Regions from separate parts of the Homo sapiens genome. Here region 2 is reported to be linked to region 1. The links are microRNA targets in miRTarBase. Many come from high-throughput screens and were not tested one by one. Region 1 holds a microRNA gene; the other region holds the end of a gene's coding sequence.
The links. Region 1 holds the annotated microRNA hsa-miR-8064 (AGCACACUGAGCGAGCGGAC, at 1,770-1,789, shown strand). A microRNA usually pairs through its seed, bases 2 to 8, with sites in the 3' UTR of a target mRNA and lowers its output. Matches are read on the target gene's strand: a 7mer-m8 pairs with bases 2 to 8, a 7mer-A1 pairs with bases 2 to 7 and ends in A, and an 8mer does both.

Region 2: the mRNA of PER2 is a reported target of hsa-miR-8064. Seed matches in the 3' UTR shown: 7mer-A1 at 1,376-1,382.

What each region holds. Positions count from the first base shown.
Region 1 is chr3:52,843,927-52,848,311 of GRCh38, reverse strand. MIR8064 (microRNA 8064) reads left to right here and starts at 1,760; the gene lies at 1,760-1,849. STIMATE-MUSTN1 (STIMATE-MUSTN1 readthrough) reads left to right here. Exons shown (of 10, transcript NM_001198974.3): 5 at 3,371-3,483. It overlaps STIMATE (STIM activating enhancer), which reads left to right. Exons shown (of 8, transcript NM_198563.5): 5 at 3,371-3,483. RefSeq lists an enhancer at 3,327-3,827.
Region 2 is chr2:238,242,775-238,247,161 of GRCh38, forward strand. PER2 (period circadian regulator 2) reads right to left here. Exons shown (of 23, transcript NM_022817.3): 23 at 1,270-3,750. The coding sequence ends at 3,601. Among named protein-coding and RNA genes, the nearest start is that of HES6, 4.9 kb to the left of the region's middle. RefSeq lists an enhancer at 3,374-4,387.

The sequences.
Region 1 (4,385 bases):
CAGCCCCTGCCCCTGGGTCATCCCACCACTGCCTTTGGGAGCCAGAGTCTTCAAGCCAGAATGTCTCCAAATAAAGCTGTGGGGACCATCCTGAGTCTTCCCCAGGCTGAGGAAGGATAGCTTGTCTGCTCAGTTACCTGTTGTTTTCTATTTCCATCAATTTCTGTTGTTTTCTATTGCTACTGTAACAGATTTCCACAAACTTCATGGCACAAATTGAAACAACACAAGTTGATTATCTTTTTTTGTTCAGAAGTCTGTCATGGGTCTCACTGGGCTAAAGTCCCAGTGTCAATGGGGCTGGCTTCTGGAGCCTCTGGGAAGATTGTTTTCTCGCCCTTTCCAGCCTCTAGAGTCTGCCTGTAAGCCTTGGCTCGCGGCCCCTCCTTCCGTCGTCCAAGCCAACAAGAGTCGCTGGGTTTATCCCACATCGAGTTGCCCTGACTTCCTGCAGCCTTCTACTTTAAAGTGTCCTTGTGATTACATTGGCCCCACCTGGACACTCAGAACACTCTCCCTGTCTTAAAGTCAGCTGACTAGCAGCCTTAATTCCATTTGCAGCCTCAATTCCCCTTTGCTATGTGATGCTACACACTCACAGGTTCCAGGGATTTGGATGTAGGCAACTGTGTGGGGCTGTTATTCCACCTCCCACACCTGTTATCCTGCCCATCCATTTGAGGAAGAGGTACCACAGCTCTCTTCTCATGTAAATGAAGAAGAGGGGCTTATTTTTCTAGGATGTGTCTTTTGTTCCTAGAAGAGAAGGCCAAGAGTTTGCTGATGAGAATGCGGGACTCAGGGAAATAAGCCACACAGCCCCGGCGGTTGAGACCAGATCCAGGTGACGCATGGTGTCTGCACTCTGATTACCAGGCCACTCTTTCCCATGTGGAAGCCCTGACATCTGGGTCACGGTGCTTCATGGGTCTTGCTGCCCATCCCTGGCCAAACTCTCCCTTTTGAAAGCCTCTCGCCACAGATGTGTTCCCTCCTTTTGGCCCCTATTGCTGTGACTTCTACTGAGGAAATAATTAAACCCAAACAAAACACCCACATGCCTGAGGTTGTTCATTGCAGTAAAAAGCAAGACACACAAGGTCCAGGTGCAGTGGCTCACACCTGTCATTCCCAGCACTTTGGGAGGCTTAAGCGGGGAGGATCGCTTGAGCCCAGGAGCTTAAGACCAGCCTTGGAAACAAAGCAAGATCCCGTCTCTACAAAAAAAAAAATTTTTTTTAATTAGCCAGGCACATGACATGCATTCTTAGTCCCAGGTACTTGGGAGGCTGAGGCAGGAGGATCACTCAAGCCTAGGAGTTTGAGGATACAATAAGCCGTGTTCATGCCCCTGCACTCTAGTCTGAATGACAGAGTGAGACCCCATCTCTAAGAAAACAATAACAGCAATGACAAAGCAGGACATGCAACACTGCCTGGCATGTCTGTCCTTTAAAGAGGAGACTGTGGGGGACATCTGAAAGACTCGCAAGTGAAACAGGAATCAGGAAACACAGCAGCCACGTGTGCTTCTCCCAACGGTGGCTGCGTGAGATCTGGGTTCCCAGAGGAAATGGTGTGCCAGACGGGGTCACAGGTGCTTTTTCTCTTTTCTCACGTTTCTGAACTTTCTTATTTTAGCATCTAAAGAGGCAGCTGTAGCTAAGTTGTGTAGCAGAAACCTAGAACACTGGGGCAATGTGAGGCGTATGGGAGGAAAAGCATTTTCCTCCTTGTCAGTCACTTAAAACTGAAGAGCAGATGGAGTGAGCACACTGAGCGAGCGGACATCCTTCCATAGTAAATAAGCGGTGCCGCGCGCTCCGCTGGCTCCCAAACACTCCAGTCCTCACAGAGAGATTTCCTAGTGGCGCTTTCTGTCCAACTGTCCTCAAACCTACTTAATTACTTAATGGTTTCTCACAAATAAGTTCATCTGTTGTTTTGAGAACTGTTCTCGATAAGGTTAGGTGACTTACCGAAAGGAAAAGGATTGCAAAACTCATTAACAACCTAGCAAGGAGGGATTATGCTTATGAAATGGGTTTTTTGGCTCAAATGTCTCCTATCCCTTAAGTGAAAGTAGAAAGGAAGACCTCAGAAGAGGCGACTGATGTGTTTCTGCCACACTTCTCCCAGGGTTTTCCAGAAAAGGGAATGGCCTGGTGTTTTGTCCATTGCAGCTGCATAAAGTCATTCCCTTGTGTACAGCTGACAGGCTTGGGCAGGGCATGGGCCTCCAGCATGGGTGCCCAAACAGGGATTGCTGCAGAAACAATAAAGCCAAGTGAGAAGCTGGAGATATCTCTTTGGACCAAATTATCTTCTCATAGCCTGGATTACGGCCTTTACCCCCCAGCCTCCCGCCCCCCCGCCACCCCCAAAATGCTACCCTGTACCCCCTCTTCTGGCCAGCTGTGGTAAGGCAGCTCTGGCAGAACTTCCAGGGTGAGCCCCAGGCAACCTTCCCACATCCCACTCTCCCCTGGGTCTCCCACTTTGGGGAGGCCTATGTGGCTCCCAGGAGCCACCCTAGGGTTCTTCATATCACAGGATCATTCCCTGGAGGGGCTGGTCTTCTCTCCGTTCAAAATGTCCTGGAGGCATTCCAAGGCCTGCACATCCTCCAGCTTGTACTACTAGGTCCCTCGGTTTCTCAAGCATGGTGACTGAAGGGGTCCCAGATGGACCTTTGTCACAGCCCTGGGCCCCGGCCCATCCCTCCCACCTCCTTGCCCCAAGGACTTCTCTCTTCACTTCCTTGTCCCTGGCCAAGGTGTTTGGGGTGACCCATGCTGGACAGGTAGAGTCCAAATTCCTCCAGAGTCACGTTTCTGCTCTCAAGAGGCTGAGGTATCAGGGATGGCCCGGGGAGTTGGGTAAGGGATGGGAGGTGGGGAGGTGGGAGACAAACAAAGCGACTGGGTCCTGCTTCATCATCCACAAACATCAGTCCACTCATGGACAGAGAAGGGAGGGGCAGCCCCGCTGTCACTGGAAAAATCAACAACGGATAAGAATAGCAGTCTTGCTTCATACAGCTTCTGCTGCCAGCCGGCAGAAAGAACAGCTTTTCTGAGCTCCAGCAATGAGCACTTCCTAACTTTAGTGCTTTTTAATCCTATCTTAGAATCTCTTAAAAGAAAGGCCATTTTAGTATCTTCAAATAAGGAATTCTCTGATTTTATTTAAAATACTGCATTTGTCTGTTAAGGATGAGGTAATCCTTTGGACTTTTGGGGGGGCTCATTAAGTACCTTTAGAGCTTTAGAGCCAGTGTTCTGGGGTGCGTGTGGGGGAGTGGGGTGGGGACATCATCTCACTCAGATGCCTGGGCCCCATGTGACTAAGCACCCGCCTGTCCCTGCAGGAGACCCTCTGCAGTGTGGAGCCTGGGTCGGGCAGTGCGCTCTTTACATCGTGATCATGATTTTTGAAAAGTCTGTCGTCTTCATCGTCCTCCTAATACTTCAGTGGAAAAAGGTTTGCTTCGTCCCTGCATGAGCAGCTCCTTGCCACGCTGAGCAAGCAGCACTTCCTCCCCATCACCCACATACGCCAACTCTAGGAAAACCAAACTTGTTTTAACTCTATGAATGTGTCCTGCATTTGGTCTGATGTGGCAACTACTCCAAAGAGCTTGTCAATTCTTAGCATCCATCCACTTTAAATGTCTGTTCTAGATGAAGCCTTGGGATGTATAAAACTAATGAAATACAGTCCCTGCCCTCGGCTTGCTACCATCTGATGGTGGTTTTTAGGCCTTGCGACAATACATGTTTCTACATCGGCAAACATCCTGTCACACACCTCTCTTGGCTGGTAGTTTAACTGAGCCATGTGGTGCCACGGGCAGCTTCCACAGTCTGTGACCTTCAGTGTGCCGATGCCCTGGCCAGCCCACGGGCTCCCCAACCGTGGCTTCCGCCCTCTGACCCCAGTTCTGTGTAGATAAACCCCCACTCCTCATCCCCGAATGCCCACATGAGACCAGCCAGAAGCTTTGAGAACAAGTGGCTCAGCTTGGCCTCCTTTGGGTTTTATTTGTGTTTGGATTTTATTTAAGAAAATAAGCCAAGGCTTTTCAGTGCTGTTGTCTTTTAGGGGTGGTTGAGGTGTGGGATTTCTGTTAGAAAGTGGTCTGGGGCCTCATTGCTGGTGTCTATAATGAGCATCCACTGTGTTCACCCCTCCAGCCCCCTGAAGCCCACACTCCACTCTCCCGGTGGGCACTGCTTGCCTTGCCCTGGCTTGGTGGCTGTAAGCCCACTGCACTTTGCAAGTCCACACTGAGGGGAAAGCTGCCAAAGCACCAGATGCTTAATGTGGTCTCCAAGGGTTCCTTGTGGACAGTCTCATCTGGGAACCCTAGGCATGAGGTGCTG
Region 2 (4,387 bases), not on the chromosome of region 1:
AGCGGTGCACTGGCCAGCTGGCATGGCCTTTTTGTCCCAGAAGCCTGGCCTATCTTGAGGTCACCAAGCCCTCCCTCCCTCCTTCACAGCAGCCTCCCCTAGCCAACACTTCCTGCCATTTGTCCCTTGGGCCAGTCCTGCCTTCAAAGTTTGCCTGAGTATGGACTTCCTGAGCATTTGAGTCCTTTGATCCCCCTAGAGCCAGGAACAGAGGCCAGCAGAGGCTGGGCAGGGTGGTGGTTGCTGCGGGGATACCAGTTAGCAGTGGGGGTGGCAGGCCATAAATCCCTGGGGGAACAAAGGCAGCTGCGGCCTGTAGACTGTCCAGGCCCCTTGTGGGCAATCTGCCCAGGAGACTCAGAGAATCTCCGTTTGGTTTGGAAATAAATCCCTTGGGGTTATATGGTAAATAAAAATACAATTAAGAGTCTTCCAAAAGCACTCAGGTTCAGTGAAACAACCATATCTGGCCATTTAGAGCAGTTTGCAGAGGCCTCTGTGCTCGCTAGGGAGGACTTTGCCTTTTATCCCATCAGCACTTGGCGTTAGGCAGCCAGGCTAGCAGGCAGAGGAGAGCCCCTCCCTTCTGCTCAGGGAGCTTCTCAGAGGCTGGGCATTGGGTTCAGGATCCATTCAGCTCTCTGCTCCCACCCCCAGGGTCATGGTTTGAAGAGTGGGAGGGATGGGGAGCAACTCTTCGGGCTTCCACAGTTTTGGCCTCACAAGGCTTCATTCATCACTGTGAAAGAAGGGCTGGGGTCAGGGGACTATGCCGCCCTGCCCATATCATTCGCAATGGAGACATGTGACCTTCCTGGTGGAGCCTCCTGACCGCCCCACCTTTAGCCCTACCTAGCCCGATGACCAGAAGACAGGCAGCCAGCCTGGAAAGGCCAGGTAACCCAGGGCAGGGATGCAGGGAAGACAGAGGTGCGTGGAGGCAGAGCTGGGGGCACTCTGGGGCTGAGCCAGACAGCTGCACCCCTCCAACTAAAAGTGAAAAGACTGTGGGGCATGACACGATTAGGTTTGCATTACGTGAGTTCACTCCTGCAGCCTGAAGGAGGGTGTGTGTGTGACACGCACAGGAAGAAAGGGAGCCAGCAAGAAGCAAACGCTATAAGGGAGCTGACCGCCAGGAGGCCTTTGGGATGTAAGATTCTTTAATGCAGAATTCCTGGAGTTCTTTAAAAAAATTTTTTTTAAATAATCTTTGCTCTCTATTCAGGTTTTCCTTTGTGCTATGTGAAAAATACATACAAGTAAAAATAAAAATATACTTGCTTTATTTACCAATTTTCTAAAAGGCAAACAGGTCATAAAAAGACACAAGCAGTCAAACAAATCTATTGCACTGGGTAAAGAAAGTTTGGTTTGCACACAAACAAACCACTTGTCCAGCAAGGCTCAACAAATCATCACAGAAACTCTGAGAGCTTATTTACATATCTCTTCGGGAATATATTAAAAAGAAGGCTCAGTTTAAAATAGAGAAAAACTGTTTAACACCTGTGTAAGCACACACACTAAAGAAAACATGACTTGATGCTTGGCATCACGTAAACAAATTCACAAGATGATCCTATTAAGTCAACTGCTTGGCACGCGCTGAAGCTACAGTTAACAATCAGTGAGCACATATTAAATGATAAAATAATGCTGATGGTAAACATTCATAACAGCAGAGTAAGATTTTGGCAGTTTTGTGTTTCGGTAACATAACTGTAACCTTAGATGAACACCTATCCCTTCATGATCTGACTTTAGAGGCAAGGAGTTTGTAACATCTAATGGCCATAAGAATGCAGACTGCTACCTTATCATAGGCATAGGCAGCTGATGTTACTTTGTAAATTAACGAAAAATTAAAGTGTTCTTGTGTTTATGAAGAATAGGTTTAATAGTCAGGCATAAGATGGTTTTACGATGAAAACCTAGTGGATTACAAAGAGATTTCACCTCCATCAAAAAACAGAAAACCCTGGTCCCAGTTGGGCGTGGTGGCTCACGCCTGTAATCCCAGCACTTTGGGAGGCCGAGGTGGGTGGATCGCTTGAGGTCAGGAGTTCGAGACCAGCCTGGCCAACATGGTGAAACCCTGTCTCTACTAAAAATACAAAAAATTAGCTGGGTGTGGTGGCAGTCGCCTGTGGTCCCAGCTACTCAGGAGGCTGAGGCAGGAGAATCGCTTGAACCTGGGAGGCAGAGGTTGCAGTGAGCCAAGATGGCGCCACTGCACTCCAGCCTGGGCAAAAAGAAACTCCATCTAAAAAAAAAAAAAAAAAAAAAAAAAAAAGAAAACCCTGGTCCCTTTTAAGCCTCATAGTCTTGGTCCAATTTTAAGTCAACTGTTCTTCAGTGATAACTTTGAATTTCCACCAGGGACCAATATTAAATTTTCTGAACCATCTTTGGAATATACAATGCAACATGAGGTTTTGTAAAAAGCCGGGCAGACTGGCCTCACTTTTCCCCAAGTGTCCAAATGACCTAAAAGTGCTGGGGACACTGGCAGAGGCCTGAAGCTGCTCCGAGAGAGGTCGGGCTCATGAAAAGAATGAGGGCTGTGCACCCAACCCAGGGTGCAGTGGGAGAGGTGAGCTCACTGCACCCCTGAAAATACAGATGCAGTCGCAAGCTGTCAGACTGAGTGGCAGTGGCTGCTCTCGGCCAGGAGATGTGATGTGGGCTTGGCTGGGTGGAAGCAGATGTCTGGGTGGTTCCAACGGAAGAAAACCAAACAGGACTGGGTCTCACATGTGTTGGTCACAGCCTGGTTTGCAAAGGGAAGTCACCATAAAGAGATGACTGATGACATATTTTAATCTCCATATTGGCCATCATGGTCTGAAAAGGAGACAAGAATAATGCAGAAATATACAGAGGGTCTGTCTGCGTGTGCATTCATCCGATGGAGTTGGCCACACAAACCACTAGGCTTCTTTAGTCCAGAGCAAATGTTTCAACTTTGTTCACTACAAACAAAACCTATGTCAGACTGAAATATTGACCACACCAGAAGCCAAAGCTGTTGGTTTGCCAAACAACGCTTCACACCATTTAATGTGAAACGTTTTGAAATAAAACTAGGAGAGGCTGCTATCTCCATTTGGTATGTATAAAAAAACACTCTACCTTGACTAAATGATAATTCAGATAAAAAGCAGTCCCCAAGAGAGGACAAAATTTGATCTGATCCAAACACCCTGGGAAAGCTCTGGAAGCCAGAGTCCCCAGCTGGTGCAGCAGACAGAGGTCTCGTCACAGTCACAGGACTTCTGGGAGCACTGAGGCAACTTCCCTGACACTAAGAGGCGCTTAGTCTTTCTCAAGTTAAATAACAACTAAAATCTCTTCCCCATCCCACAAAACTCCACATATATATTTTATATATAAAAACATATTTCTTTCCGAACTCTCCCCACTCTCCACAGTTTTAAGTCGCCCCTTCAGAAAACTATGTTGTTTTTTTTTCTAAAACAAAAAAAGCAACATGAGCATATGTGTCCATTTCAGTGGAAACAGCCATGAAGATCTTTCATCTCTTCCAAGCACCACCTGGTGTACCTCGCTGGCTGCCGGGCTGAGGTGGGGCAGGGGTTACGTCTGCTCTTCGATCCTGTGATTCAAGGGGGATCCATTTTCGTCTTCTTTGGTGTCCGACACTTCGCTGAGTCCCAGAGAAGGAATATCTTCCTCATATGGTATGCAAATATTACCTTTTTCCTTGTTTTCACAGTAAACACATTCCTTAAAAGAAAAAAAAAGAGAAATCAGTAACAAACTTGAGATCTGAGTTGTTACAAAAGTCATTCAAATTGGCCGGGCGCGGTGGCTCACGCCTGTAATCCCAGCACTTTGGGAGGCCGAGGCGGGCAGATCACGACGTCAGGAGATCGAGACCTTCCTGGCTAACACGGTGAAATCCCATCTCTACTAATAATACAAAAAATTAGCTGGGCGTGGTGGCAGGCACCTGTAGTCCCAGCTACTTGGGAGGCTGAGGCAGAAGAATCGCTTGAACCCTGGAGGCAGAGCTTGCAGTGAGCGGAGATCACGCTACTGTGCTCCAGCCTGGGCGACAGAGTGAGACTCTGTCTCAAAAGATAAAAAGTCATTCAAACTGAGTAAGGTGCAGGTGACCAGGTGTCAGCCAGGAGGTGGCTGGCAGCAAAGGCCAAAATCCCTGTCCCAGGAGCTGGCACTCTAGTAGCAGAGAGAGACAATAACTAAGAAGGGCTCCAGAGGCATAGGGTATATAGAGGACATCTGTGATTTTCAACTGGACATTCACAGCAGGCCAAAGAAAAGGTGACGCAATGATTTTGAAACGTGTCCACACTCTTTGCCACTCCTTCCTCAAAAGGTGGGGCCTAATTCCTTTCTC